2 linked regions of the Homo sapiens genome follow. The protein of the gene in region 2 purifies or fractionates together with the protein of the main gene of each other region. This does not show direct contact. Each region holds a gene or a part of one and is shown on either strand. Other genes may lie near its edges. The genes, in order: ZNF512 and ZNF668.

What was found.
Region 1: the proteins of ZNF668 (region 2) and ZNF512 purify together in Homo sapiens (affinity purification with mass spectrometry; 2 studies listed by BioGRID and IntAct, with this or other methods). This does not show direct contact.

Annotation. Positions count from the first base shown.
Region 1 is NC_000002.12:27,582,498-27,598,313, forward strand, and holds the start of ZNF512 (zinc finger protein 512), read left to right. Parts: upstream 1-544; 5' UTR 545-615; coding exon 616-645; intron 646-928; exon of another isoform or gene 929-1,029; intron 1,030-1,160; coding exon 1,161-1,219; intron 1,220-15,569; coding exon 15,570-15,757; intron 15,758-15,816. Other genes in the region: SPATA31H1 (spermatogenesis-associated protein 31H1), read left to right, coding at 1-30. UniProt on the Homo sapiens protein: May be involved in transcriptional regulation.
Region 2 is NC_000016.10:31,067,492-31,083,821, forward strand, and holds the start of ZNF668 (zinc finger protein 668), read right to left. Parts: upstream 6,750-16,330; 5' UTR 6,168-6,749; intron 6,012-6,167; exon of another isoform or gene 5,196-6,011; intron 1-5,195. Other genes in the region: ZNF646 (zinc finger protein 646), read left to right, coding at 8,834-14,210, 15,480-15,601; PRSS53 (serine protease 53), read right to left, coding at 16,013-16,318. UniProt on the Homo sapiens protein: May be involved in transcriptional regulation. May play a role in DNA repair process.

The sequences.
Region 1 (15,816 bases), on a different chromosome or scaffold from region 2:
CAAGTGTGGAGGCCTGAAGCTACTCGATGAGGCGAGGTCCGCCCCTATTATTCATTGTCCTAAGTCTTCATCGTGCTGCCCTTTCCAGGCTTCTTTCCTGCTCAGCCACTGCCTCCAATTCCTGCGCCCCCAGCGTGGAAAGGCTTCCATTTCTCTCTACCGGGGGGGAGGCGGGTGAGAATGGGTCTGTAATTTCTCTAAGATGAATAAAGGGGCAGTAAATGATCTTCCTGTGCATCTGGACTGAGACCACTGGGCGGGTGGATGGGGAAGGCAGGCTGGAGGGACACGAGGAGTTGTGCAAAGATTCGGAATGAGAGCCAGGGGTTTTGAGGCCCAGCCGAGGCTCCAAGCTCCGCCCCTTCACTCCAGACCCCACCCATAGGTTCCCGGGTCCCGCGTCGCGATCCCAGTGGGGCGGGGTCTCAGAGGAATCGGAGGGTGACTCATCACGTGACTCGCTCCGGCCGCAGCCCCCTCGGAAGCTGCTAGGCGGAAGTAGAAGTTCAGAAGAGGGCTAGGCGGAGCCGAGCCCACATCCGGGAGAGGAGAGCGGAAGTGGCGTTGGTCTGGCCGGAGCCCTTGGGTGAAATTGTTAGGCGTGGAGAGGGAGTGATGTCTTCCAGACTCGGTGCTGTACCCGCCGTGAGTTTCTTGGTTTGACCGTTATGCTTTAGAGGTAGCGCTGTCGAGCCCGGAACACGCGGTCCCTCGCTTTTGTCCCATGCTGAGTTGGTTTTATCAGAGGCCATCGTAGGCCCCACCCTTCTAGATCAGATCACCTGTCCCTTTTTCTTTACCCACGTTCTGCTGCCTGTTCCCCACCTCCTTGGATTTAATTCCTCGCCACATTACCATTAGTTTCTATTCCTTTTACATCCCCAATGTCTCTCATATCCGTTGTCTTTTCTTTTGGCCTCCCTTTTAGAGCCTGGGACAGGGCTTTGAGAATGGGGGAAGACGAAGGCTCTGGTATTGTTACCCGCCTTTGCACTGCTGGAAGATAGGACAGCATATTTTTCCTAAAAGGTGTTGCCTTCTTGTGTTTGAGGTGGTTTCCCCGGGAGAACTTCATTTCTTCTGGGCATAGGGGAATTCGTCTTTTTGTGGTCGAGGTTCAGAGGTCCCTAGCACTCACTCGTGTGCTTGTGATTTGCTAGACTTCGGGACCCACAACCTTTAAGCAGCAGAGGAGCACGAGGATCGTGGGAGCTAAGAAGTAAGTGAGGTTTTCTAAGGTCCTTTTATGATTGTGTCACCAGCGCTGACCAGTAGAACTTCTTCCTGTGATGAAAATGTTCTGTATCTGCATTGTCCAGTATCATAGCCACTAACCCGGTGTGGATTTTGAGCAGTTGAAATGTGGCTAGTGCAACTGAGGGACTGAATTTTAAATTTTATTTGCCAAGTGAGTGAGGTTTTTCTAAGGTTCTTTTGTGATTTTGTGGCCAGCGCTGTCCAGTGGAACTTCTTGTGACGAAAATGTTCTGTATCTGCACTGTCTAGTATCATAGCTACTAGCCCCGTACGCCTTTTGAGCGCTTGAAATGTGGCTAGTGCGACTGAGGGATTGAATTTTAAATTTTATTTAATTTTAACTAACGTTAAATAGCCACCTGTAGCTCGTGGCTATCGGATTGGACAGTGTAGGTCTAAGTCTAGTGTGTGGGAGAAAAACCTAGCTTGCAAAAAAAAAGTACAAATTGTAATAAAAATGGAACCAAAGACTCAGTGGTAATTCTGTATTTCTCCAGACATGAAATTCGTGCTCATAAATACACTGATGAACTTGGGATGGATGATAAAAATGGCCGTAAGAAATCCTTGTATTTTTAAACTACTTGTCTGTAAGACTGGTTTATTATTTAGTACACTGAAGGTGCTTAGTTTTTCCATGGTTAATACAAAAGAAAACATTCTTGTTAACTAGACATTAAATGGATTCATTCATTCAGGTGACATTTACTACATGTTTGCTGTGCGCCAGTTCTGTAGTAGGTTAGGAATACAGGCATGAAAAACAACTAGCAGTCTAGAAGGGGAGATAGGCAAGTAGGTCAACACAGTTCATTGTAATAAGTAAGTATTTTTAAGTAGGAATTTAATTTAGCCTTTGAGGAAGGGGAGTGATAGTTTGGAAGGGAAGGATTATCAGAGCAGGTCACTCCTAAGTAGAAACTTGAAAGTTGAGGAATCATGCAGTTAGTGAGAAGGAGAAAGGTTTTTCAGAACAGAGAACAGCATGTGAACGTGTGGAAAGAGTTAATGGGATAGTAAGTAGTTCTGTATGTCTGGGATAGAGGATGAGGGATTGCAGGGAGAGCGTTTAGAGAGGTTAGTAGGGGCTAGACCATGGAGGACCTGTTACGGCATGCTAAAGTGTTTGGATTTTATCCTGGAAGAGATAATGAGGGAATGACATAGCCAGATATTGGTCTTAGGCCACTCTGGCAGCATTATGAAGGATGGATTTGGAAGGGTACTGGGAAACTGGTTCAGAGGTTATTATGATAACCTAAGAGATGAATAAAGAACATGTAGCCTATGGTGGGAACAATATACAGGGAATACGTAGGGAACAACGTATAGGGAATGTACAGGTGGTGATGATGAGAAGTGAGTAAGAGAAGGAAGATAGGATGTCTATGGGTTTCTGGCTTTGGCCATCAGGTGAATTTTGGAGTAATTCACAGAACTACAAATTTCTGAATGAGGAGCAACATTTGGAACAAAAACAAATAGGTTTGGACCTCAGATGAAGAGCTGGTCTGAAATACAGAATTGGGAATTATCAGCTATAAAAAATAATTGGAAACATGATGTTTTCTTCCACAAGCTGAGAGTTTTAATGAGCTCTTCTAGTTAAAGTGGTTAGAGCAATGTTTCTCAGTATGTACCTTGGTCACCTAGAGATAATTGTTAAAAAATAAGATTATTAGGCCCCCATCCATTAACCAGATTTGGAATCATTGGGTTTAGGGCATAGAAATCTTTACTTTTAACTAGCTTCCTAGGAGATTGTGACATTTGAGAGTCAATGGTGAGAAGTGAGACCAGAGAAGAGTAGAGGAGGAAATCATGGAGAACACTAGCTTTTAAAGATTGGGTAGAATTAAATAAGTTTACAAAGGATACCGAGATGAACTAAAGTACTTTTCTAATGAAATCTAAATATTTGCACATGGAAGAATGAGCTAGGGGCTCTTAAAAATTTTTGGTAGATCAGAAAGGAGTTGAAAATAGGCTAAACTTTTTATGTTTGTGATCAGAAGCTGAGAGTTGCCACACTGGTGGCAACAAATTATAAAATAAATGCAATTATGATAGTCATTGTATCACAACAAAGCTTTTTCTTGTTATATGTATGGAAAGGGAAGTTTGAGCTTAATCTGGTTTTTTTTACAAATAATCAAATGTCCTGGGGTTGATGGGTAGATATTGTAAAATACTTGAGAATTGTTTTTGTTGAGTGCTTTAAAAATAAAACATGAGACCTGGAGGAGGGATTCCCTAACCACCTTGATTTAATCTCCAAGAGTTAATTATGATCATATGAACTGTTGCCTTTTCAGTATGCTTATGCTTATTCATAAGAGGGTATATGGGTACTGTATTTCTGAGTCCTACACTGATAGTAAGAAATTCCTACATGGAGAGTTTCCTAAGAGTTATTACATGGGACTCAGCTCTTAATGGCCTGTTGGTACCATCAAGTCTTTGTTGTTGTTGTTGTTGTTGTTGTTGTTGTTGGAGATGGAGTCTTGCTCTGTCGCCTAGGCTGGAGTGCAGTGGCATGATCTCGGCTCACCACAACCTCCACCTCCTGGGTTCAAGCAATTCTCCTGCCTCAGCCTCCCGAGTAGCTGGGATTACAGGTGCACACCGCTGTGCCCTGCTAAGTTTTTGTATTTTAGTAGAGAAGGGGTTTCACAGTGTTGCCCAGGCTGGTCTTGAACTCCTGAGCTCAGGCAGTTCGCCCATCTTGGCCTTCCAAAGTGCTAGGATTACAGGCATGAGCCACTGCGCCTGTCCCATCAAGTGTTTCTAGCATTGTTTGGGATGGTAGGTTTTGGCCTTAGAGGCCTGCCAGTCCATTAATTTTTAAAAATACCTTTATTGAGGTATAATTAGAGTACAATAGACTGCACATATTTAAAGCGTACACTATGGTCAGCTTTGACGTATGTCTGTACCCGTGAAACCATTGCCACAATCAAGATAATAAACATTTTCATCTCTCTCAAAAGTTTGTTCATGTCTCTGCCATTTCTTCCTCCACTCCTGTCCACGGGCACCACTGTACAGTGGTTTGCATATTCTAGGATTTTATATAAATGAAGTCACACAGTATGTTCTCATTTTTTTCATGATTTCTTTCACTCAGAATAATGATTTTGAGATGACAAATAGTTTTTATTGCTGGGTAGAATTCCATTATGGATACCATAATTTGTTTAGCCATCTATCTTGATTGACATTTGAGTTATTTTCAGTTTTAGGGTGTCAAACAATAAGGCTGCTGTGAACGTTCATGTACAAGTCTTGTGTGGACAAATGCTTTCATTTCTTTTGATAAATATCTAAGATGGTATTTACCATCCTAGGTTGGTTGATTCATATGGCAGGAGTATGTTTAGCTTTTTAGGAAACTACCTGCTTTCCAAAGTGGTATTATTTTGCATTCCTACCAGCAATGTATGAGTCAGTCTTTTCAATTTTAGCTAATTTAATGGGTGTGTAGTGGTATCTCACTGTGGTTTTAATTCATGGGTTTTTTTTTTTTTTTTTTCTTTTTTTGAGACAGTGTCTCCCTCTGTCACCCAGGCTGGAGTGCAGTGGCCTGATCCTGGCTCACCGAACCCTTTGCCTCCCAGGTTTAACTGATTCTTCTGCCTTAGCCTCCTGAGTAGCTGGGATTACCGGTGTGCATCACCACGCCTGACTAATTTTGGTATTTTTAGTAGAGATGGGATTTCACCATGTTGGCCAGGCTGGTCTCGAACTCCTGACCTTAAGTGTTCTGCCCACCTTGGCCTCCCAAAGTGCTGGGATTACATGCTTGAGCCACCACACCTGGCCTAATTTGTGGTTTTTAATTCATCATATATGAATAATAATGTTGAGCATCTGTTCGTATTCTTTCTTTTTTTGATCTTTTTTTTTTTGCATCTGTTCATATTCTTTTTTATTTTATTTTTTTTGAGACAGAGTTTCACTCTTGTTGCCCAGGCTGGAGTGCAATGGTGCAATCTCGGCTCACTGCAACCTCCGCCTCCCAGATTCAAGCTATTCTTCTGCTCACCCTCCGGAGTAGCTGGGATTACAGGCATGTGCCGCCACGCCTGGCTAATTTTATATTTTTAGTAGAGACGGGGTTTCTCCATGTTGGTCAGGCTGGTCTCGAACTCCCAACCTCAGGTGATCTGCCCACCTTTGCCTCCCAAAGTGCTGGGATTAACGGTGTGAGCCACCGCGCCCAGCCTTCATCTGTTCCTATTCTTATTGGCCATTTGTGTGTCTACTTTTGTAAAATGTTTACATTTTTGTCCATTAAAAAAAGTGGGTTATCTTATTGAATTGTGGTATTTAAAAAAATCTGTCCTGAATACAACTCGTTTGTCTGTTATACTTCCTTCCAGTCTGGTTTGTCTTTCATTTTCTTAATGATGTCTTTTGAAGAGCAAAAGGTTTAAATTTATCATTTTTTTCTTACATTTCATGCTTTTATGTATCCTATTTAAGAAACCTTTGCCTCCCTGGAGGTCGTAGCGAGTCAAGGTGGTGCCACTGCACTCCAGCCTGGGCGACAGAGCGAGATTCCGTCTTAAGAAATAATAATAATTAAAAAAAAGAAACTTTTGCCTCCCTAATTGCAGAGATTTTCTGTGGTCTTTTCTCCTAGAAGTTTTATAGGTTTTATATTTAGGTCTGTGACTCATTTAGAGTTAATTTCTGTGAATGTTTTATGGTAAGGGTCAATGTTGACTTTTTTTTCTATTTATATACCCAGTTGTTGGAAAGAGTTTTCTTTCCCTACTGAATTGCCTTGGCATCTTTGTCAAACTTCACTTGGACATGTATATGTGTAGGTCTGTTTCTGGACTCTCCTTATTCTGTTCTACTGATGTTTATTTAGACTCTTGAAATCAGTAAGTCCTCTAACTTTAGTGTTCTTTTTCAAAATTGTTTTGGTTATTCTCAGTTCTTTGCGTTTTTATAAGAAGTATAGAATTGGGTTGCCAATATCTATTAAAAGAAGCTTGCTGAGTATTGATTGGTATTATATTGAATCTATAGATTCCGTTGGGGAAAATTGCTATTTTAACAATATTGAGTTTTCTGATTTATGAACATGCTATATTTTCCCCTTTAAGTCTTCTTAATTACTCTCAGCAATGTGTTGTAGTTTCATTGTTTTTAAAAGTCTGGAACGTCTTTTGTTAGGTTTGTTCCCAGGTATATTATGTTTTACTGATGTAATTGTAAATGGTATTATTTTTATAATGTCATTTTCTAGTTGATTGTTGCTAGTATATAAGTATTCAGTTGACTTTGTATGTTATCCTTGTATCCTGACACTTTATAAATTAATTTATTAGTTCTAGTAATTGTTTTGTAGATTCCTTGGGATTTATTTTGTAAACAATCATATAATCTGCAAGTAGGGACAGTTTTGCTTTTTTCCTTTTGATCTTGTTTTAAACCTATTGCAATGGCATTCAGCAGTGAAACTACATGGGCCTGTAGTTTTCACTGTGGGAAGGATTTCATAAATTCAGTTTATTTAATAGATATAGGGCTACTTAGATTTCCAGTTTCTTCTTGTGTCAGTTTTGGTAAGTAGTATTTTTAAAGAAATTTGTTCATTGTAATTTTTCCATTGATTAGCATAAAGTTATTCAAAGTATATTATTACTTAATGTCTACATAATCTGCGGTAACCCCTTTTTCATTTGTGATATTGGCTATTTGTAGTGTCTTTTTTTGTAGATCAGTCTAAGTCTAGCTACAGGGTTGTCAATTTTGTGATCATTTCAAAGAACCACATTTCCCCTATTGTCTGTTTTCTAGTTCATGGGTTTCTCCTCTTACCTTACCTTTTCTTTGGTTTACTTTGCTTTTCCTTTTAAGGTATCTTAAGATGAAATCTTAAGTCATTGATTTTAGATCGTTTCTAGTATAAGCATTTAAAGCTTTAAGTTTCTAAGTATTGCTTTAGTTGCATCCTACAAATGTTGATATGCATATTTTTGTTGTTTTTCAGTGCAAAATATTTTCAAATTTCATTTGTGATTTCATTTTGGACCTATGAATTATTTAGAAGTAGATTATTTAATTTGCAGATATTTGGATTTTTTGTGTTTTTTGTTTTTAGATATCTTCCTATTATTGACTCCTAAGTTGATACCAATGTGGTCAGAGAATACACTGTGTAATTCTCATCCTTTTAATAAAAGTTAAAGTTGATGGCCCAGCGTAAGATCTAGCTTAATGAATGCATAATGTGCACTTGAAAAGAATATATATCCTGCAGTTGTTAGATGTAGTGTTGTGTAAATGTTAACTAGAGCAAGGTGGCTAATAGTGCAGTTCAGATCATTTATGTCTTTTACTGAATTTTTATCTAGTTCTATCAGTTGCTGAAAGGGGGAGGTCTTAAATTTTCTGCTAAGATTGTGGAATTGTCTATTTTTCCCTTTAATTTTGTCAGTTTTCGCTTTGTGTATTTTGAGGCTCTATTATTAGGCACATACAGTGGGTAATTATGCCTTCCCAATGATTTGACACTTTTGTCATTATGAAGTGTCTCTTTTTATCTCTGGCAGTACTCTTTGTCTTGAAGTCTGTTTTATCTGATATTAAAATAGTCATTCCAGCCTTATGTTTGCTGATTGTATGATACAATTTTTTCATCTGTTTATTTTCAATCTATAGATGTCTTTATATTTTAGAGTGTGCTTCTTGTAGGTAGCATGTAGTAGGGTATCACTTTTTATTTTACTCTGTCATTTGCTGACTTTTAACTGGAGTGTTTAGACTGTAAACATTTAAATTAATTATTGATATGGTTGGATAGGTCTGCCCTTTTATTTTTTGTTCTCTGTTTATCCATTGTTTTTTGTTCCTGTGTTTCTTCTTTTGGATTATTTGAATGCTTAGTGTCTGCCCCTACTCTTGTTTTTTTAAGAGACAGTGTCTTGCTCTGTTGCCCAGGCTGGAGTTGGTGGCACATTCATTGCTTGCTGGGCTGAAGTGATCCTCCCACCTCAGCCTCCCAAGTAGCTGAGATTACAGAGGTGTGAGCCATCTACCCCGGCCTGTTTACCATTTCTGTTGCTCTTTCTTCATTCTTAAAAATCCAAGTTTCTCTCTGGTATTATTTTTCTTCAGCTGGAATCATTTGTTTTAGCATTTCATATGGAGCAGGTCTGCTTACAATGAATTCTCTTAGTTTTATTTCTTAGGATATTTTCACTGAATATAGAATTCTGAGTTGACAAATTTTTTCTCTCAAAATTTTAAAGATATTTCTTTTTCCTTTTCTTTTTTCTTTTTAGAGACAGGGTCTCACTCTGTTGCCAAGGCTGAAGCGCAGTGGTGCGGTCATAGCTCACTGAAGCCTCAAATTCCTCAGCTCAAGGGATCCTCTCACTTTAGCCTCCCAAGTAGCTGGGACTATAGTTGCATGGCACCACACCTGGATAATTGCTTTAAAATTTTTTTATTTTTATTTTTGTGGGTACATAGTAAGGATATATATTTATGTGGTACATGAGATGTTTTGATACAGGCATACAATGTGAAATCACATCATGGGGAATGGGATATCCATCCCCTCAAGCATTTATCCTTTGTGTTATAGACAATCCAATTACACTCTTTTAGTTATTTAAAAATGTACAATTAAGTTCTTAAAATTATTATTATTATTATTTTGAGACAGAGTCTCGCTCTGTCACCAGGCTGGAGCACAGTGGTGTATCTTGGCTCACTGCAACCTCCGCCTCCCGGGTTCAAGCATTTCTCCTGCCTCAGCCTCCCGAGTAGCTGGGACTACAGGCGCATGCTACCACGCCCAGCTTTTGTATTTTTAGTAGAGATGGGGTTTCACCATGTTGGCCAGGATGGTCTTGATCTCTTGCCCTTGTGATCTGCCCACCTCGGCCTCCCAAAGTGTCGGGATTACAGGCGCGAGTCACCGCGCCCAGCCTTAAAATTATTTTTTGTAGAGACAAGGTCTTGCTATGTTGCCCAGGCTGGTCTTGAACTCATGGGCTCAGTCCCCCTGCCTTGGCCTCCCAAAGTACTGGGATTACAAATGTGAGCCATTACACTGGTTCGATTTTAAAGATACTGTACTGCCTTGTGGCATTCTTGGTTTCTGTTGAGAAACCCATGGTCATTTAAATCATTTCCTGTAATGTAATATGTCACTTTTCTGAAGCTTTCTAGTTTAAAACAAAATCTTTGGCTTTGAATAGTTTCTTATTTATTTAAACAATTTTTTTGAGACAGAGCCTAACTCCCGTTGCCCAGGCTGGAATGCAGTGGCGCAACCTCTGCTCACTGCAGCCTCATCCTCCTGGGCTCAGGTGATTCTCCCACTTCAGCCTGCTGAGTAGCTGGGACTACAGGTGCACACCACCACACCTGGCTAATTTTTTGTATTTTTAATAGAGGTAGGATTTTGCCATGTTGCCCAGGCTGTTCTTGAATTCCTGGGCTCAAGGGATCTGCCTGCCTCAGCCTCCTAAAGTGCTGGGATTACAGGCTTGAGCCATTGCACCCAGCTTAGTTTTTTTATTTATTTATTTATTTTTATTTTTTTTTTGAGATGGAGTCTCGCTCTGTAGCCCAGGGCAGCTGGAGTGCAGTGGCATGATCTCGGCTCACTGCATCCTCCACCTCCCAGATTCAAGTGATTCTCCTGTCTCAGCCTCCCAAGTAGCTGGGACTACAGGCACCCGCTACCACACCCAGCTAATTTTTGTATTTTAGTAGAGGTGGGGTTTCACAATATTGGCCAGGCTGGTCTCCAACTCCTGACCTCAAGTGATCTGCCTGCCTTGGCCTCCCAAAGTGCTGGGATTACAGGTGTGAGCCACCATGCCTGGCCTAGTTTATTTTTTATTGAGTTAAAGTATACCCATATAATTTACCATGTTTACCTTTTTTTTTTTTTTTTTTTTTTTTTTTTTTGTTTGAGACAGAGTTTCGCTCTTGTTGCCCAGGCTGGAGTGCAAATGGCGCGATCTTGGCTCACCACAACCTCTGCCTCCCAGGTGCAAGCGATTCTTCTGCTTCAGCCTACTGAGTAGCTGGGATTATAGGCATGTGCCACCATGCCCAGCTAATTTTGTATTTTTAGTAGTGACGGGGTTTCTCCATGTTGGTCAAGCTGGTCGTGAACTCCTGACCTCAGGTGATCCACCTGCCTCAGCCTCCCAAAGTGCTGGGATTACAGGCGTGAGCCACCACGCCTGGCTGATACATTTATATTCTTTTTCTTTTTTTCCTCTCTTCACTCCCTCATGTCTCCCCTCCCCTTCCTGGCTGAATAGTTTCGTTAAGATGTGTCTTGGTTGGGTACCGTGGCTCATGCCTGTAATCCCAGCAGTTTGGGAGGCTGAGGTAGGAAGATTGCTTGAGCCCAGGAGTTTGATACCAGCCTGGACAACAAAGTGAGACCCTGTCTCTACACACACACACACACACACACACACACACACACACACACACACACACACAAAAGAATGAGCTGGGTACCGTGGCACACACTTGTGGTCTCAGCTACTCAGGAGGCTGAGGTGGGAGGATTGTTTAAGCCTGGGAGGTGGAGGCTGTGCTTGAGCCACTACACTCCAGCCTGAGTGACAGAGTGAGACCTTGTCTCAAAAAAAAAAAAAAAAAAAGTGCTTTGGACCAGCCTGGGCAACATAGCAAGACCCTGTCTCTATGAAAAAACACAAAAATTTAGTGGGTATGATGGTGTGCACCTGTGGTTCCAGCTACTCGGGTATGGTGAGGTGAGAGGATCACTTGAGCCAGAGAGGTCCAAGCTGCAGTGAGCCATGTGCCACTGCACTCTGGCCTGGAGAACAGAACAAGACTGTGTTTCAAAACAAAACAAAAAGATGTATCTTGGTATGTTTTTCTTTGAGTTATCCTATTTGGTGTTTGTTGAGCTCCTTGAATCTGTAAATTTATATCTGACCAAACGTGGGGGATTTTCCACCTTTTTTTTTTCAAATGTATTTTTCTGCCTTAGTATCTTTCTTTCTTTCTTTTTTTTTTTTTCCATTTAACCCTGAGTTGACACAGCACATGTTTCAGAGAGCACAGGGTTGGGGGTAAGGTTATAGATCAACAGCATCCCAAGGCAGAAGAATTTTTCTTAGTACAGAACAAAATGGAGTCTCCTATGTCTACTTCTTTCTACACAGACACAGTAACAATCTGATCTCTCTTTCTTTTCTCCACATTTCCCCCTTTTCTTTTCGACAAAACCGCCATCATCATCATGGCCCATTCTCAATGGTCACTGTCTCTTCGGAGCTGTTGGGTACACCTGCAGAAAGGCTGTCACTTCACACTTGGAAGATTGCACAGCGGCCAGTCAGAGGTGCTCCTCACTTCCCAGACAGGGTGGCGGCCGGGCAGAGGCGCTCCTCACATCCCAGATGGGGCGGCCAGGCAGAGGCACTCCTCACCTCCCGGACAGGGCGGCCGGGCAGAGGCGCTCCTCACATCCCAGACGGGGTGGTGGCCGGGCAGAGGCACTCCTCAGTTCGCAGACGGGGTGGCAGCCGGGCAGAGGCGCTCCTCACCTCCTAAACGGGGTGGCGGCCGGGCGGAGGCGCTCCTCACCTCCCAGAAGGGGTGGCGGCCGGGCAGAGACGCTCCTCACCTCCCAGACGGGGTGGCGGCTGGGCAGAGACGCTCCTCACCTCCCAGACGGGGTGGCGGCCGGGCAGAGGTGCTCCTCACCTCCCAGACAGGGCGGCCGGGCAGAGGCGCTCCTCACTTCCCAGACAGGGCGGCCGGGCAGAGGCGCTGGTCACATCCCAGATGATGGGCGGCCAGGCAGAGACGCTCCTCACTTCCTAGACGGGGTGGCGGCCGGGCAGAGGCGCTCCTCACTTCCCAGACGGGGCGGCCGGGCAGAGGGTCTCCTCCCATCCCAGATGATGGGCAGCCAGGCAGAGACGCTCCTCACTTCCTAGATGGGGTGGCGGCCGGGCAGAGGCTGTAGTCTTAGCACTTTGGGAGGCCAAGGCAGGCGGCTGGGAGGTGGAGGTTGTAGCGAGCCGAGATCACGCCACTGCACTCCAGCCTGGGCAACATTGAGCATTGAGTGAGCAAGACTCCGTCTGCAATCCCAGCACCTCGGGAGGCGGAGGCGAGCAGATCACTCGAGGTCAGGAGCTGGAGACCAGCCTGGTCAACACGGCGAAACCCCGTCTCCACCAAAAATACAAAAACCAGTCAGGCGTGGCGGCGCGTGCCTGCAATCCCAGGCATTGGGCAGGCCCAGGCAGGAGAATCAGGGGAGCCCGAGGTAGGGAGGTTGTAGCTAGGTGAGATCACGGCAGTATGGTCCAGCCTTGGCAACAGAGGGAGACCGAAGAAGGGAGAGGGAGGAGAGCGGGGAGAGGGAGAGCGAGAGCTGCATTAGTATCTTTCGCCTCTCCCTCTGGGATTACAACTACACTTAAGTTAAAACGTTTGGTATTAGGGTTTTGTTGAATGTTTTTCAATCTTTTTTTCTCTTTGTTCTTCAGACTGGTTTTTTTTCTTTTCTTTTCTTTTTTTTTTTTTTTGAGATGGAGTCTCGCACTGTCGCCCAGGCTGGAGTGCAGTGGTGCGATCTCTGCTCACTGCAGCGGCGCGATCTCTGCTCATTGCAGCCTCCGCCTCCCAGGTTCAAGCGATTCTCCTGCCTCAGCCTGCCGAGTAGCTGAGATTACAGGCACCCACCACCAGGCCTGGCTAATTCTTTTGTATTTTTAGTAGAGACGGGGTTTCACTATGCTGATCAGGCTGGTCTCGAACTCCTGACCTTGTGATCCGCCTGCCTCGGCCTCCCAAAGTGCTGGATTACAGGCGTGAGCCACTGTGCCCGGTGGAGACTGGGTCATTTCTATTGAACGGTCTTCAAGTTCACAGACTCTTTCCTCTGTCATCTCCATTCTATTACTGAACCTATCTGATGAGTTTTTATTTCAGATGTTGTATTTTTCAGTTCTAAGATTTCATTTGGTTCTTTTTTATGGTTTCTTTTTCTGCTGATGATTCCCACCTTTTCCTTCATTTCTTGTGTGTTTTCTTTATAAGAAAGTATTTCTTTTTTGTTGACAGTATTTGATAGTCCCAAAATCTGGATCACCTTGTGGCTGGCATGTTTTGGTCATTTGTTCCTTTGAAAATTGCTCACATTTTCCTGGTTCTTTATGTGTTGCATAATTTTGGAATTTATCCTCATCATTGTGAATACTTTTTGTGTAGATTTTGGGTCCTATTATAATTCTTCTGGGGAATGTTGCCGTTTCTGTTTTAGCAGGCCACCCTGCTTCAGGTTCAGGCCAAAACTTCTGTCTTGCTTTTGGAGGCATTTGTTAAAATCTCGGTTCTGTTCTTTATGTCTTTGCTATGTTGATTTGAGCTGTCCCAAACATGAATAGCTTAGGGGCTGGTCTGAGACTTCTGCAGGTGTTTCCAATCTTATTTCAGTTCTCCAAGCTTTTGCTGCTTTGGTTTGGGTCACATTAGAGTTCAAATCTCATTTTGGTTTTCAAAGTCTTTGCTAGGCTGGTACGTATGGGTATATGCCACACATTCATGGCTAAGGTTAAGTTGTGACTTATTTGGATTCATACATTGAATTAAGAGATTCTTTTTTTTGCCTGTTTTCTCTCTAGCATTCCTCCCACCCCCAGTCCCCCAACTCTGGTCCACAGGGACCTTTTTTCCTGATTTACCTGGTAAGAAAGAAGGGAGTTTCTAGAATTAAAGCTGCCTATGCTGCTCTGCAAGTGGGGTTCATCCTCATTGCAAATTCTTACTTGAGGGAAAAAGACAGAATTGGAAAACTCACCCCATTTGGGGCACTTCTCCCAACTTTGACTCCCCTGCATAATTTACTTGTTTTTGTTTGTTTTACAGAGTCCAGTGAGCAGGAGGGGTGGGCCTTAGTGGGCTTAGCTGCCCCTCCAGAGCCAGGACTTCTGTGTATTAAATTTGTGTTATTGGACCTCATGTGTGGAGAGCCGAAACTCATTCTTCCCTATTTGTAACATACTGACATAACCAGTCTCTGTTATGTTTACTCATCCCCATTTCCATCCCCTCCCTCCTAGAGGAAACTGTATAAACAAGTGTGATGTTTGCACTTAAATATTTATGACTCCTTTAAAAAATAAGCTTTAAAATAAGCTGCTTTATGTGTGGATTTGTTTTTAGCTTGCTGAACTGACATTGTGCTAGAGATACTGTTTTGTTTCTTTTTTCATTCAACAATATACTTTTTAGTTATGGTCGTGTCTCTATGTGTAGAATTAGTTTATTGCTTCTAACAGCAGCACAGTATTCCATAGTAGGCATCTATCACATTTTGCAAGGATGGTCACTGTGTTACTTCCAACTCCCTGATGTCATAAGCAAACCTCTCTATGTGTAATTCTTATTAGCTCTACATCTAAAGTGTTACCTTGAATCTGCCAATTCAAGTTAACTTTTTTCCTTTTGTTTACTCTTTCTCCCATGGGCTGTCTCCATAGAGCAGCCAGAAGGATCTTTCTGAACCATAAATCTAAAGTAGGCCTCACAGGTATTTAGCTGGAAAAGGGAGGTTCTAGGAGTCCATTGACCACTCTTGGAGAACTGCTGCTCTGCTGCATCTTGAGCCACCTAGAAGAATGTCTGATGCTTTGTAGTTACAGAGTAATGTTTTTTAGCTGTCATACTGACTGGTCTTAGATTTTGGAATCTGGATTCAGCTGTATACCAGAAATCTCTGGCCAGGTTAATTCATGCAAGATAGCATCCATCCTTTAGCTGTGGAAGCTAAGTATCATGTTGCCTAAATAAGATAGGGCATCAGGTTTTAGGGAGAATGCTGAGGCAGAAGGAAGATGAGTCAGATTAGGGCCCACAGACTATTCCTTTCCCTTAGAGATACCCTTTAGTTGCCATCCCTCTGTCAGAGAAAGAGAGAGGCTGGGACATACCAGGTTACAAATCCAGGGAGTCTTCTGAAGGGTCATAGAACACCTTTATTGCTTCACCTACTTTCTTTTATTAGATGAATCTAGGAAGGAATGTCTACTTGGGCTGCAAAGTGATCATTTATGTGTACTGCTTACTCTTATTACAATGAAGTGTGATAATAATTGTACATGTTGTGTTAGATCAACTATTGTTATTGTTAGGTGATTACAACTTACATTCTGTTTTTATAGCAGGCTTCTTAGTTTTCTGCAGAGGTAACCAACTTGGTTATAATGTAAAAGAATGTATAGAAATTTTGCTCCAGACCTTCCTTTGTGGTATATATTTTTATGTTGTATTAGTAGCAGGACCCAGTGCTCCATAAAGGATAATAGTTTCCAGTACACTATCCCTCATGATGACTCCTTAAGTGGTTCATCGTCTGCATCTTCGTGTGAACCAGTGAGTGATTTTCCAGCATCTTTCCGAAAATCTACCTACTGGATGAAGATGAGAAGAATCAAGCCAGCTGCTACTTCTCATGTCGAAGGTATCAATATCAGTGTCTTATTCTGAAGACGGGCCACTTCCTAAAGTTATAGTTTGAGA
Region 2 (16,330 bases):
GTAATGTACTGCATGTCTTAGAACCTCAGTTTTCTAATCTGAAAAATGGAGATAATGACAGTACTTACCTGACAGAGTTGGGTGAGGAATGAATGAGTCAAAAATAATTACTGTCCTCAATTATCAAAGCGTCTTCTTAGAGCCAGACACATTGCTGGGTGTGCTGGTTTATTTAATTTAATGTCTTATACCTTTCTGAGATAGGGATTCTTGTCCCTACTTTACAGAGGAATAAATCGAGGTTCCAAGAGTTAAGTGACTTGCCCATGGTCCCACAATGGGTAACCTAAGCAGCTGGGACTTCAGTCCAGGTGTTTAATTTGCCTTAAGTTGCTGGGGTCTTGCTCAGTGGTCTGGGGCCTCTTACGCTTGTCTGCTGCCTCCGCCAGCCCCACAGTGACCAGAACCCTGAGCTCAGGTCATACCTGTGTCTTCTCTCATCCTTGCAGAACTGCCCTGAGACCCTGGCCGGCACCCTTTATGTCTCTGCTTCCCTCTCAGAGGGCTTGACCCAGTGGTTCTGAGCTCTGGCCCTTCTACTGCCTCTTGCCAGCTCTGGGTCTCAGCCTTCCTATCTGTGAGTTAGACACCAGGTAGCTGGAGGGGAAATCCCTCCTCCCATGGCACTTCCCAGGGGAAAAGGTAGGGGAGTGCCAGGTTGGTCTCAGCATGCGCCCAGCTACACAAAGAGGCCAGGTAGGCTAGGTCTCTGTCTAACATCCCACCATTAAAAAAAAAAAAAAAAAAAATATATATATATATATATATATATATAATTTTTGAGATGGAGTCTTACTCTGTTGCCCAGGCTGGAGTGCAGTGGCGCGATCTTGGTTCACTGCAACCTCCGCCTCCTGAGTAGCTGGGACTACAGGCACCTGCCACCACACCTGGCTAGTTTTTTGTATTTTTAGTAGAGACGGGGTTTCACTGTGTTAGCCAGGATGGTCTCAATCTCCTGACCTCGTGATCCGACCGCCTCGGCCTCCCAAAGTGCTGGGATTACAGGCGAGAGCCACCACGCCCAGACTTTTTTTTTTTTTTTTATTAAAGAGCTTGAGGTAGGCCTCAGGAATCTGTATTTTAAATACACTCTGGATCATTCCAGCCAATACTTTTGTTTGTTTGGTTTTGAAACAAGATCTCACTCTGTCGCTCAGGCTGGAGTGCAGTGGTGCAGTCATGGCTTACTGCAGCCTTGACTTCCCAGACTCAAGCAATCCTCCCACTTCAGCCTCCCAAGTAGCTGGGACTACAGGCATGCACCATCATGCCTGGCTAATTTTTATTTTATTTTTAGTAGAGATGAAGTCTTGCTATGTTGCCTGGGCTGGTCTAGAACTCCTGGGCTCAAGTGATCCTCCCACCGCAGCCTCCCAAAGTGCTGGGATTACAGGCGTGAGCCACCGTGCCTGCCCAACCAATACTTAAGAACCAAACACACATCCTTAGGTCTCCACGAGCTCTCAGGAGAGGAGCATTTTAAGTGTTCACTACACCTCTTTTTCAGATATTGAGATTAAGGTCCCCACAAAGGAAAAACTGTACACAAGGACACACAGCTGGTCAAGGAGCCAGACTCGAACCCAAGTCTCCATTCTCTCCCCCAGGTTGAATCATGAGACTTCCCACTGCTCCCAGGAAAAAGACCAATATCTTTTCCATGGCCAGCATAGCCCCAAACCATCTAAATCCTGCCTACCTGGGCAGATCACTTGAGGCCAGGAGTTTGAGACCAGCCTGGCCAACATGGTGAAACCCCATCTCTACTAAAAATACACACACACACACACACACACACACACACACACACACCTGCCTACCTCACCTCCCACTCCTCTCCCTGGCCCACTGGGCTCTACCCACAGAGGCCTCCTTTCTTCTCCTCAAAGAGCTAAATTCCTTCCCACCTCAGGGCAGTGGCACTAGCAGTTCCCTCTGTCTGAGCCACTCTTCTCCCACGATCTTTGTGTAGCTGTCTTTTTTGGTGTTATTTGGATCTCAGCTCCCAGTCACCTCCTCAAAAAGAGCTTTCTTGACCACCTTTCCTTTTCTTCCCCCCTTTTAATATTCCAAATTTTTTCCTTTTTTAACCAACCAAGGAGCACTGAATGACTACCTTTCTCAATGCTATCTTTACCCCTGATAATCATTCTCTATCTACTCTTTATTATTATTATTATTTTTTGACGGAATCTCATGATTATCTATCAAGCAGTTCTCCTGCCTCAGCCTCCTAAGTAGCTGGGACTACAGGTGCCCGCCACCACGCCCGGCTATTTTTTTTTTTTTTTTTTTTTTGAGACGGAGTCTCACTCCGTCACCCAGGCTGGAGTGCAGTGGCACAATCCTGGCTCACTGCAAGCTCCGCCTCCCGGGTTCATGCCATTCTCCTGCCTTAGCCTCCTGAGTAGCTGGGACTACAGGTGCCCGCCACCACGCCCGGCTAATTTTTTGTATTTTTAGTAGAGACAGGGTCTCACTGTGTTAGCCAGGATGGTCTCAATCTCCTGACCTCGTGATCCACCTGCCTCGGCCTCCCAGAGTGCTGGGATTACAGGCGTGAGCCACTGCACCCGGCCCAATCCCGGCTAATTTTTGTATTTTTAGTAGAGATGGGGTTTCACCATGTTGGCCAGGATGGTCTCGATCTATTGACCTCGTGATCCGCCCGCCTCGGCCTCCCAGAGTGCTGGGATTACAGGTGTGAGCCACCGCGCCCGGCCCTTTTTTTGAGACGGAGTCTTACTCTGTCCCCCAGGCTGGAGTGCAATGGCACAATATCTGCTCACTGCAACCTCCGCCTCCCGGGTTCAAGCGGTTCTCCTGCCTCAGCTTCCCGAGTAGCTGGAATTATAGGCGCCCGCCACTACATCTGGCTCATTTTTGTATTTTTAGTAGAGAGAGGATTTCACCATGTTGGCCAGGCTGGTCTTGAACTCCTGACCTCAAGTGATCCACCCACCTTGGCTTCCCAAAGTGCTTGGATTACAGGCATGAGCCACCGCACCCAGCCCTCTTTACTTTTTAAAAAATGTTTTTATTTTTATTTATATATTTATTTTTGAGACAGAGTTTCACTCTTGTTGCCAAGGCTGGAGTGCAATGGCACCATCTCTGCTCACTCCAACCTCCGCCTCCCCGGTTCACGAGATTTTCCTGCCTCAGCCTCCCGAGTAGCTGGAATTACAGGCATCCACCACCACGCCTGGTTAATTTTTTGTATTTTTAGTAGAGATGGAGTTTCACCATGTTGGCCAGGCTGGTCTCGAACTCCTGACCTCAGATGATCCACTGCCTCGGCTTCCCAGAGTGCTGGGATTACAGGCATGAGCCACCGTGCCTGGCTTATTTTTATTTATTTTATTATTTATTGTTATTATTATTTGAGACAGAGTCTCCCTCTGTTGCCCAGGCTGGAGTGCAATGGTGTGATGTCAGTTCACTGCGACCTCTGCCTCCTGGGTTCAAGCAATTCTTCTGCCTCAGCCTCCCAAGTATTTGGGATTACAGGTGCCTGCCACCACAGCCAGCTAATTTTTTGTATTTTTAGTAGAGATGGCCATGTTGGCTAGGCTGGTCTGGAACTCCTGACCTCAGGTGATCCACCCACCTTGGCCTCCCAAAGTGCTGGGATTACAGGCTTGAGCCACCATGCCCGGCCTATTTATTTCATTTTTATTTATTTATTTTCTTTGAGAGAAAGTCTTTGTTGCCCAGGCTGGAGTGCAGTGGCTGCATCTCAGCTCACTGCAGCCTCCACCTCCCGGATTCAAGTGATTCTCCAGCCTCAGCCTCCCGAGTAGCTGGGACTACAGGCGAAAGCCATCACACCTGGCAAACTTTTGTATTTTTAGTAGAGACAGGGTTTCACCACATTGGCCACGCTGGTCTCGAACTCCTGACCTCAAGTGATCCGACCGCCTCAGCCTCCCAAAGTGCTGGGATTACAGGCGTGAGCCACCGTGCCTGGCCTTTATTTTTATTTAGAGATTGGGTCTCACTCTGTCACCCTGGAGTGCAGTGGCTCAATCATAGCTCACTTCAGCCTCAAACTCCTGCACTCAAGCAATCCTCCTGAGTAGCTAGGACTATAGGCACCCACCACCACACCTCGCTAATTTATTAAAAATTCTTTGTATATAGAGATGGAGGTCTCACTACGCTGCCGACAGTGGTCTCAAGAACTCCTGGCTTCAGATGCTCCTCCACTATGGCTTCCTAAAGTGCTGTGATTACAGGCATGAGCCACAGTGACCAGCACCCCTCCTCTCTAATTTCCTTTATGGTGTCATCTGGACAATACTCCTTGCAAGCTTACCATGGGCAAGGTATCATTCTAAGCATTTTGTGCATAATACTCAACTACTCAAGCCAACTGCACAGCTGCCTAGCAGTTCATTATGAGTGAATGTTTGTGTTCCCTGTCCATTCATATATTGAAATTCTAACTCTCATTGTGACTGTATTTGGAGACAAGGCCTTTATGGAAGTAATTAAGGCTGAATGACGTCATAAGGGTATGGCCCTGGTCCAGTAGGATTAGCGTTCTTATGAGAAGTGACACCACAAAGAAACAAGCTTACTAGTCACGGTCCCAGCCAGTGTTCAAATCCCAAACACCTGCTCTCTGAGCCCTGACTATTGCTTTGCTAGCATTACACATCTTATGGTTTGGCTGTTAATTCTTCATCACCAGCACCAGAGTCCAGGCTGGCAAAGGGCTAGGAAACCGATCATCTGCCTCCTCTACACCCAGAACCCTGTGTGGTGACCCAAAACAAATGGAAAGAACCAACCTCAGATGAAATTTGAACCCAGGTCTGTAGCCTCTGCCTCCTCCACAGTAGGAGTTTGTGAGAATGTCCACCAATAACTGTTTATTAACTAAATTCCTCCACCTTTCCAACTCCACAAGGCTCAACTATTGCCCCAATATCCCACAGTGGGCTCCCTGTCGTGGCGATGAAGCCTTGCTTTGCCTCACTACTGGCTTAGGAAGGGGATGAAGTTCTGCTGTCTCACTAGGCAAGCAAAGATTCAATTTCCAAAAATCCTAGGCTAGGACCCTGGGGCAGGGATGAGGAGAAAAAGGAGGCACCTCAATCTTCCCATCTCTAAACAAGCAGTCACCACACAGGCCTCACGGCCAGGAGTGACGTAGTGAGCGGATGAACCCTGCAGAAGTGAGCGCTAATCATATCCTAGGCCTCCTACCGGGCCAGTTCACAACCTGATCCCAACCTACTTTTCCAGCCTCAGCTCCAGCGACAGAGTCCTCCTCCCGGCAGCGACCGAACCTCCAGCCACAATTCTCAATCCTCCACCTCTAGATGCAGTTTCCTGGGCTCGGGGAGCCCTTGCCTGCCTTCTCCAACGGGAAAGCCCCTTTACATCCTTCAAGAACCCCCTTCCCTAGTGCCCTCAGGAATACTTTATGGCAGTAGAGAGGTAAGGGCCCCACGCCGCTCTGGACCTCAGTTTCCTCATCAGTAAAATGGGGTCCCTTAAGTTTGTGGGAGTTTGAAGGGCGGTGGGGCCTACGAAGCGCGCCGAGGAGCCGAGAGTTGCAGAAACCCGGAGCTCCTCGCTCCTCGCAACCGTCTGTACGCGGCGCCCCCGCCAGCCAGGCAGCCCCTGGAGGGCAGGACCCCGGTTATAAGCCTCAGAAAACGTGGCTTCGGAGGACGTGGCAAGGAGGACTGAACGAAGGATGAGGAGATGAACAAATGAATGGACGGAAGGCCGAATGAGGGACAAAGGCTTGCAAGATGGCGTTCTCTAGGACCGCGGGAGTGGTGGCCGGGCCTCAGCAGGGGAGGGGGCCGCCGGCGCCTGGGATCTTGCAGCGCGGGCCACGCGACCGGGACAAAAACCCAAAACATGGCGGGCTCTAGGACCCCCGGGACCACACCGCGCCGGGCCAGCAGCCGCGCGGGCCGAGCCTGGGTGTCCGCAGCCCAGAACCGCGGAGACAGCCGGCGGGTTCTAGGACCTGCTGGGCCCGCAATGCGCCCGGGGCCGCTCACAGCCCGCCCCGCCCGCGCTGCTCGCGCTGGGCCAACCCGGCCCGCCCTCGGCGCCCGCAGGGAAACTGAGGCCAGCTCGGATCGTGGCCGCGTGGGAGCTGCCCGGGGCCCTCGCGGCTTCCCGCCGACGTTTCCTACCTGATGAGACTTGTGCTGACTCCGTGGCGTCGGCGTCGGCTCCTCGCACCGACGGAGCCCGGACCCTGCCAAACAGGGGCCGGCGCTAGGACCCAGCGGGGGGCGGGGAGGTGGGACCGGTGGCGCGGCGAGCGGAAGTGAGGGATCTTCCTCAGCTAGGAAGGAAGGGAAAGTTCCCGGGGAACCTCCAGCCTATGGCGGCAGAGAAGCATCTTGCAAGAGGTCTCTGTGTGTGCTGAGGCAAGGGGACGCCAGGCAGGCTGACGGTATACGCCCGCCTTGTGTTAGTCTGGGGCCAGGTCACCGGCAATGTCTTCAAGAACCAGAAGGTGGGAGGACAAAAAGGCCATGCTCAAGCTCTGCAAAACCTAAGTCCAATTATATTCCACAACATTTCCTTTAATAGCAAGGAGTGGGTTTCACGAAGTTTTCTCCATCTGCCTTGGGAAAAGTCCTCCAGAGAGCCCCACGAAAAGTGTCACCAAAGTACTGTGGCCAGGGCTGTAGAATCTTTTTCTCCCTTTCTGCGCCTATTCAATATGCACCGGAACGATTCTAGCTGCTCTTGCCGGAAGTGTGGCTAGCTTAGCGTGCAAAGACGCCGCGTTGTGACCTACGTGGGCGGAGTCAGCCGTGCAGACCTAGAACTTAGCGCCGGAAGTGTGTCTGCGTAAAACTGCGGCTCGGAGGCGGGACAGGCAGTGCTCCCGAAGCGGAAGTTTCGCGGGGAAGCTTTTGCACCTAAGGACACTTCCTGTTTCCTAGTAACAATAGGAAGTGTCCGTAGAGCTGGGAGTAGACTCCTGGCTCATGCCAGCTGCGCCCTCTTTTCTCTACCTCCTTCCTCTTCCCCCCTTCTCCTTTCCCTCTTTCCCTTCCCTCCCACCTCCCGGGAACCCTGGCTGAGTGTGCGTGTGTGGGAGCGCGAGAGCCCCCCGACAGCCACCCCTTGGGGCGCGCGGCTGCAGTTAGGGTAAGGGTCCCAGTGCGCAGGCGCGCTCTTGTTCGCGGTCCCCAACTGACGCGCCCGCGGCGGGAAGGAGAGGGGGCCGCCGGTGCGAGGTAGGCGTCCTGAGAGGAAATTGGCAGACGAGATGAGTGAGGTCAGAGGACTTCATTGGTGGTTGACTAGGGGAGGGGACTTTTGATCAAAGGGGCTTTGTGAGGTGAGAATTCCGGGGGCAGGTTCAGTGAAGGGGTTTACGGTCGGAGACAGTTGTACTGGGGTCCCATGGGAAGAAGAGTCAGAGTTGGAGAAGGACAAGACGATGTAGGGGGCATGAGAGAGCAAGGGCTTTGGGATGAAGACCGCCTCAGTCAGGGGGTTTGCTGTTACGTGAACTAGAATAACAGGCATTGCCGTGTGTTCTGAGGATTGAGTAACACAATGAATATAGTTAGCACAGTGCCTGGCACATGGTAATATAATACTCTTCATGAGTTGCTGTCATCATCAGTATTAAGAGAGGAGGCAGAAGAAAAAAATGAGAAAGACTGGTGAGGGTAAGATCAGGAGGCATGGGAGAGAAAAGGTAGGCAATGAAGTGACATTACAACCTGGTATTGATGTTATTCCCAAGATGGAAGATAGTTTGAGTTCAAGGGAAGTAGATAAAAGAAGTCGCTAAGAGAGTCTTTTGGGGTTTTTTGTTTTTTTGAGATGGAGTCTCGCTCTGTCACCCAGGCTGGAGTGCTGTGGTGGGATCTCAGCTCACTGCAACCTCCACCTCCCAGGTTCAAGCAGTTCTTCAGCCTCAGCCTCCTGAGTAGCTAGAATTACAGGTGCCCACCACCACGCCCGGCTAATTTTTGTATTTTTAGTAGAGACAGGGTTTCACCATGTTGTCCAGGCTGGTCTTGAACTCCTGAACTCAGGTGATCCACCAGCCTCGGCCTCCCAAAGTGCTGGGATTACAGGCGTGAGCCACCACACCTGGCCCAGTTAAGAGAGTCTTAACTCTCTTAACTCTCTTGTCACAAGGAAAAGAGACCTTGTGACACTGAAATGACTCGGGGTGGTGGGGGAACAAGCCAGCCCTTTCCCTGAAGGAGGCCTCTAACCTCTCCTCTCAGGTCCTCAGCTATTAACTGGAGGAAACAGCTGCTTTTTCAGTGCTTCTCAGCTACTCTGTTTAGCTGAGAGATGAAGTAGGAAGATTTGGACTTCTCTTATTGAAAGGCCTAGAGAAGGTTTTGGTGTCCTTTTAAGATGTCACAGAAAATTTTTGTTTCAGGATTGTAGGGAGCAGATTCCTACTGTTCTTAAAGGACAGTAATGCCTTTTGAGTCTGGTCTGAAGAACATAACAGGTCTGTGATCAGAAGTAGGTTGCATCTCTCTCAACTTTAATTTCCTTAGCTATACCTGTAGGGATGACTTAAGCCTAGGGGAGCTCCTATATTTGGGAAGCTTGTGCACAGGGAAGCCTTAAATGATGGTGCCTGCAGATTGGATCTAGTAGAAATTAGGTCCTTGGGCATGGATGCTTGGGGAACCTCTCAGTGACCTCAGGTGAACTTGTTGCTCGTAGAGCCAAGAGGCGAAGTTAATTCAGGCCTTCCTTTTGACCACTGCCCCCTCTTCCTAGGCCTTGGCCCCTCCACCAGAGGAAGGTGCTGCCACGTGTCTGCTCCTTCTGAACCTCCAGGTTTCTGCTACGTTGCCCCATGGAGGACACACCCCCCTCACTCAGCTGCTCCGACTGTCAGCGCCACTTTCCCAGCCTCCCAGAGCTCTCTCGGCACCGAGAACTGCTCCATCCATCTCCCAACCAGGACAGTGAGGAGGCTGACAGCATCCCTCGGCCCTACCGTTGTCAGCAGTGTGGGCGGGGCTACCGTCACCCCGGGAGCCTGGTTAACCATCGTCGGACCCACGAGACTGGCCTTTTCCCCTGTACCACCTGTGGCAAGGACTTCTCCAATCCCATGGCTCTCAAGAGCCATATGAGGACACATGCTCCTGAGGGCCGCCGCAGGCACAGGCCCCCACGCCCCAAGGAAGCCACTCCACACCTCCAGGGTGAGACGGTGTCCACTGACTCCTGGGGCCAAAGGCTTGGCTCTAGTGAAGGCTGGGAAAACCAGACAAAACATACAGAAGAGACACCTGACTGTGAATCTGTACCTGACCCCAGGGCAGCTTCGGGTACGTGGGAAGATCTGCCCACCAGACAAAGAGAAGGCTTGGCAAGCCACCCAGGTCCTGAGGATGGTGCAGACGGCTGGGGACCCTCCACTAACTCTGCCAGAGCCCCTCCTCTCCCCATCCCAGCCAGCAGCCTTCTTAGCAACTTGGAACAGTATCTGGCTGAATCAGTAGTGAACTTCACAGGGGGCCAGGAGCCCACCCAGTCCCCTCCTGCTGAGGAGGAGCGGCGGTACAAATGTAGTCAGTGTGGCAAGACCTACAAGCACGCCGGGAGCCTCACCAACCACCGCCAGAGCCACACGCTGGGCATCTACCCCTGTGCCATCTGTTTCAAGGAGTTCTCTAACCTCATGGCTCTGAAGAACCACTCTCGACTGCATGCCCAGTATCGGCCTTACCACTGTCCCCACTGCCCCCGTGTCTTCCGGCTCCCCCGGGAGCTGCTGGAACACCAGCAGTCCCATGAGGGTGAAAGGCAGGAGCCACGCTGGGAGGAGAAAGGGATGCCCACCACCAATGGGCACACAGATGAGAGCAGCCAGGACCAGCTCCCCAGTGCACAGATGCTGAATGGCTCTGCGGAGCTCAGCACCTCTGGGGAGCTGGAGGACAGTGGCCTGGAGGAATACCGGCCTTTCCGCTGTGGGGACTGTGGCCGTACTTACCGCCATGCTGGGAGCCTCATCAACCATCGAAAGAGCCACCAGACAGGTGTCTACCCCTGCTCACTCTGTTCTAAGCAGCTGTTCAATGCGGCTGCCCTCAAAAACCATGTGCGGGCTCATCACAGGCCCAGGCAAGGAGTTGGGGAAAATGGGCAGCCATCAGTCCCACCAGCTCCCCTGCTGCTGGCTGAGACCACCCACAAAGAGGAAGAGGACCCCACCACCACCCTGGACCATCGGCCCTATAAGTGCAGTGAGTGTGGTCGTGCTTACCGCCACCGGGGGAGCCTGGTGAACCATCGCCACAGCCATCGGACTGGAGAGTACCAGTGCTCACTCTGTCCCCGCAAGTACCCCAATCTCATGGCCCTGCGCAACCACGTGCGGGTACATTGCAAGGCTGCTCGCCGAAGTGCAGACATCGGGGCTGAGGGTGCCCCCAGCCACCTCAAGGTAGAACTCCCGCCTGACCCAGTGGAGGCAGAGGCAGCCCCGCACACAGATCAGGACCATGTGTGCAAACATGAAGAAGAGGCCACGGACATCACCCCAGCAGCAGACAAGACAGCAGCACATATCTGTAGCATCTGTGGGCTGCTCTTTGAAGACGCTGAGAGCCTTGAACGTCATGGCCTGACTCATGGGGCAGGGGAAAAGGAAAATAGCAGAACAGAGACCACAATGTCACCTCCTAGGGCCTTTGCCTGCCGAGACTGTGGAAAGAGCTATCGCCACTCAGGCAGCCTTATCAACCACAGGCAGACCCACCAGACAGGAGACTTCAGTTGTGGGGCCTGTGCCAAGCACTTCCACACCATGGCTGCCATGAAGAACCACTTGCGCCGGCACAGTCGGCGGCGGAGCAGGCGGCATCGGAAGCGGGCTGGCGGTGCCAGCGGTGGGAGAGAAGCCAAACTCCTGGCAGCGGAGAGCTGGACCCGGGAGCTAGAAGACAATGAAGGCCTGGAGTCTCCCCAAGACCCTTCAGGGGAAAGTCCTCATGGGGCTGAAGGCAACCTGGAAAGTGATGGGGACTGTTTGCAGGCTGAATCTGAAGGGGACAAATGTGGGCTTGAGAGGGATGAGACCCATTTCCAGGGTGATAAAGAGAGCGGAGGCACTGGGGAAGGACTGGAAAGGAAGGATGCCAGTTTACTTGACAACTTGGACATCCCAGGTGAGGAAGGTGGTGGCACTCACTTCTGCGATAGCCTCACTGGGGTGGATGAAGACCAGAAGCCAGCCACTGGCCAACCCAACTCCTCTTCCCACTCTGCCAATGCTGTCACTGGCTGGCAGGCTGGGGCCGCTCACACATGCTCTGACTGTGGGCATTCTTTCCCCCATGCCACTGGCCTGCTGAGCCACAGGCCCTGCCACCCACCAGGCATCTATCAGTGCTCCCTCTGCCCGAAGGAGTTTGACTCTCTGCCTGCCCTCCGCAGCCACTTCCAGAACCATAGGCCTGGGGAGGCGACCTCAGCACAGCCTTTCCTCTGCTGCCTCTGTGGCATGATCTTCCCTGGGCGGGCTGGCTACAGGCTTCACCGGCGCCAGGCCCACAGCTCCTCTGGCATGACTGAGGGCTCAGAGGAGGAGGGGGAAGAGGAAGGAGTGGCAGAGGCAGCCCCTGCACGCAGTCCACCACTGCAGCTCTCGGAAGCAGAGCTGCTGAATCAGCTGCAGCGGGAGGTGGAAGCGCTGGACAGTGCAGGGTATGGGCACATCTGTGGCTGCTGTGGTCAGACCTACGATGACCTGGGGAGCCTGGAGCGTCACCACCAAAGTCAGAGTTCTGGGACTACTGCAGACAAGGCTCCCAGCCCCTTGGGAGTGGCAGGTGATGCCATGGAGATGGTCGTGGACAGTGTCTTGGAGGACATAGTGAATTCTGTCTCTGGAGAGGGTGGAGATGCCAAGTCTCAAGAGGGAGCAGGCACCCCCTTGGGAGACAGCCTCTGCATCCAGGGTGGGGAAAGTTTGTTGGAGGCTCAGCCCCGCCCCTTCCGCTGCAACCAGTGTGGCAAGACCTATCGCCATGGGGGCAGCCTGGTGAACCACCGCAAGATCCACCAGACTGGAGACTTTCTCTGCCCTGTCTGCTCCCGCTGCTACCCCAACCTGGCTGCCTACCGTAATCATCTGCGGAACCACCCTCGCTGCAAAGGCTCTGAGCCCCAGGTTGGGCCCATCCCAGAGGCAGCAGGTAGCAGTGAGCTGCAGGTTGGGCCCATCCCAGAAGGAGGCAGCAACAAGCCCCAGCACATGGCAGAGGAGGGGCCGGGGCAAGCAGAAGTCGAGAAGCTCCAGGAAGAACTTAAAGTGGAGCCCCTGGAGGAAGTGGCCAGGGTGAAAGAAGAGGTGTGGGAGGAGACCACTGTGAAGGGGGAGGAGATAGAGCCCAGGCTGGAGACTGCCGAGAAGGGCTGCCAGACTGAAGCCAGCTCTGAGCGGCCCTTCAGCTGCGAGGTGTGTGGCCGATCCTACAAGCACGCCGGCAGCCTCATCAACCACCGGCAGAGCCACCAGACCGGCCACTTTGGCTGTCAGGCCTGCTCCAAGGGCTTCTCAAACCTCATGTCCCTCAAGAACCACCGGCGCATCCATGCAGATCCCCGACGTTTCCGCTGCAGCGAGTGTGGGAAGGCCTTCCGCCTGCGGAAACAGCTGGCCAGCCACCAGCGGGTCCACATGGAACGGCGTGGGGGTGGGGGCACCCGAAAGGCGACTCGGGAAGATCGGCCCTTCCGCTGTGGGCAGTGCGGGCGGACCTATCGCCACGCCGGCAGCCTCCTGAACCACCGGCGCAGCCACGAGACGGGCCAGTACAGCTGCCCCACCTGCCCCAAGACCTACTCCAACCGCATGGCCCTGAAGGACCACCAGAGGCTGCACTCAGAGAATCGGCGGCGACGGGCTGGACGGTCCAGGCGCACAGCTGTGCGTTGCGCCCTCTGTGGCCGCAGCTTCCCTGGCCGGGGATCTTTGGAGCGGCACCTGCGGGAGCATGAGGAGACAGAAAGGGAGCCAGCCAATGGCCAGGGAGGCCTGGATGGCACAGCGGCCAGTGAGGCGAACCTGACTGGCAGCCAGGGACTAGAGACCCAATTGGGTGGTGCTGAGCCAGTACCCCACTTGGAGGATGGAGTCCCAAGGCCAGGGGAGCGCAGTCAGAGCCCCATCAGGGCAGCAAGCTCAGAAGCCCCAGAGCCACTGTCCTGGGGTGCAGGGAAGGCAGGTGGGTGGCCGGTAGGTGGGGGACTGGGGAATCATAGTGGAGGCTGGGTTCCTCAGTTCCTAACTAGGTCAGAGGAGCCAGAGGACAGTGTCCACAGGAGTCCTTGCCACGCTGGTGACTGCCAGCTCAATGGACCTACTCTGAGTCACATGGATAGCTGGGACAACAGAGACAACAGCTCTCAGCTGCAGCCAGGGAGCCACTCCTCTTGCAGCCAGTGTGGCAAGACTTACTGCCAGTCAGGCAGCCTCTTGAACCACAACACCAACAAGACAGACCGACACTATTGCCTGCTCTGCTCCAAGGAGTTCTTAAATCCTGTGGCCACAAAGAGCCACAGCCACAACCACATAGACGCCCAGACCTTTGCCTGTCCTGACTGTGGCAAAGCCTTTGAGTCCCACCAGGAACTGGCCAGCCACCTGCAGGCTCATGCCCGGGGCCACAGCCAGGTGCCAGCCCAGATGGAGGAGGCCAGAGATCCCAAAGCCGGGACTGGGGAGGACCAGGTGGTTCTCCCTGGTCAAGGGAAAGCCCAGGAGGCCCCATCAGAAACCCCCAGAGGCCCAGGAGAGAGTGTGGAGAGAGCCAGGGGAGGACAAGCGGTGACGTCCATGGCGGCTGAGGACAAGGAGCGGCCCTTCCGCTGCACCCAGTGCGGGCGCTCCTACCGCCATGCTGGCAGCCTGCTGAACCACCAGAAGGCCCACACCACAGGGTTGTACCCGTGCTCCCTCTGTCCCAAACTTCTCCCTAACCTGCTGTCTCTTAAGAACCACAGCAGGACCCACACGGACCCCAAGCGCCACTGCTGCAGCATCTGTGGCAAGGCCTTTCGGACAGCTGCCCGGCTGGAGGGCCACGGGCGGGTCCATGCACCCCGGGAGGGGCCTTTCACCTGCCCCCATTGTCCCCGCCACTTCCGCCGCCGAATCAGCTTCGTGCAGCACCAGCAGCAGCACCAGGAGGAGTGGACGGTGGCCGGCTCCGGTAGGGGGCATGAAGGGTCCCAGGAGGAGGTGGGCACACAGTGGAGGGGGAAGTCCAGCCCCAAAGTCGGTGGGGGAGCAAGGAGTGAGAGGAGAGAGCCCCGGGGATTCTAAGAGGTGGGTGGGGGCTTGGCTATGGGGTGAGAGAAGTAGCTTGAGGATGTGCTGAGCTGAGCACCCGCAAGTCAGGTATAACAAATAGCAGGGTGGGTTGGGCAGCACGTGGGGGCGTGGTCAGGCCGAGGCTGCTACCTGGGCTCCTCCATTACACTGTAGCCAGAATGGAATGGTCTTTCTGTTCAGGGGAAGGTCACTGGGTACCCCCTGGCTGCTGTGTCTGGAAACCCTCCTGAGTCAGCCAGTAAAGTAATGACTTCCAGAGAAAAAGAGGAAGCCATTGGTTTGGTCTAGGTTCCATTCTTTCCTGGAGCAGGCCGGGTGCCAGGGAACAAGGGATGGGGCATGGGCTCCACGGCTTCCCTGCTGACTTGGCCACGGAAACTGGTTCACTGGTTGGCACCCTACTCCCTGTCCCTCTTTCCCTGCGCCTTGTCTCTGCTGCTCCTCTCCTTGGAAACTAGACCTCTGGTCCTTCCCTGTCAGTGTTGCTCCCATCTCTTCTCTAACCTTTATTCAGCCCCTTTTCCCTCTGCTGCCAACGGCCTTTTTAGGATCCAACCAAACCACCCTTTCTACCTGCGCACCCTGCCACCCTCTGCACACCTTTAACTGGAGGACTGAGTCACAGATAATTGTTTCCTTGAAGTCCAGGCCCAGCTGCAGCAACAACAGTCATTAGCCCGTGTCACATCCCTGATCAGAGGGCATCTCCGTGGGGAATCGCCTCCACCCAGCACTGCTGGAAGCCGCAGCTGCCAGGGAGTGGGGCGGCCGGTTCCCTCAGCAGGACCTGGGCTGGCCTCTCCACCTCCCCTAGTAGAGGCGGACCCATTCCATCTAGTGGCCACCGAGGGTGGGTGGCCCTGAGATGGTGGGCCCTTGACAGGCCTTGTCAGAGCAGAGGGCAGGTGGGAGTCACCTGAAAGCTGAAGGAATGGCTTTAAGGATAGAAGATTTCTCATGACCTCAAGGGATATGAGGGAGGAGCCAGTTTGCCAGGGCTGGGAAAATAATTAGGAGGCCTAGAATCCCTGTTCTCATCTGGGCCTCCGGGGCCAGGGGCAGGGGAATGGCCTGCAGGGCTGGGAGGGGGTACACGCTGTGCGGGGTCTGCCCCTCAGTTGGTGACCTCCTCTCTCTCTCCCCCCAGGAGCCCCAGTGGCACCAGTGACGGGCAGAGGGGACTTGCCATTGCCCCCTCCACCCACCCCCACGACCCCACTCCTGGATCCTTCACCCCAGTGGCCTGCAGACCTCAGCTTCTCCCTCTGAACTTCAAGTCTCCAAAGATCAGAATCTGGGGGAGGGAGCGCGTGCAGGGAGGGGCTTGATCTCCACATTTTCTCAGGAGTAGTTCGGGCATCCCCATATCTTCTCCTCTCCCCTTGTGAAGAGGACCCAGATCTGGCTTCTTTCCCAAGGAGGGGGTGGGGTGTTCCTCGCGTCCCTGTCCTTGAAGGACCTCCTTCCCCCAGCCTCATCACCGTGCTCTTCTCAGCGCCACCCTCAGCAGCCAGATTGCAACACCAGGGAGAGGCGGATGCAGAGCCCCACCGGTGGGAAAGTTGCCTGTGGAAGGGAGCCTTTTGCTACAATTTGTAACTTATTTTCTAAAGTCTATTTTGTAACAATTTATTTAAGTTTAAAAAAAGGAAAACTGCTGCCCCCCAAAAAAAGAAATTTTCAAAACAACGTGGCTGGCGTGATTGTATCTGAAAGGGTAAAGGAGGAGGAAAGCTGAGACGCCTGCTTGGTAGCAGAGTTGGGTGTGGGAGTGTCCACAGACACCCCTGTCCTGCAGGGTGGGGAGTGGGCACCTGTGGCCCCAGGCAGGTTCCTTCCCACAGCTGCTGGGCTTCTGGGCCTGCCCTGGTGCCTGGAATCACACATGACAGGGTGGGGAGGACAGGGGCAGTAATGCCATTTGCCTGCCTGCATTCTCTTGTCCTGAGAATGGCCAGGTCCCCTGTCAGCAGCTGGTTGGTTGGCCTGTGGGGAAGG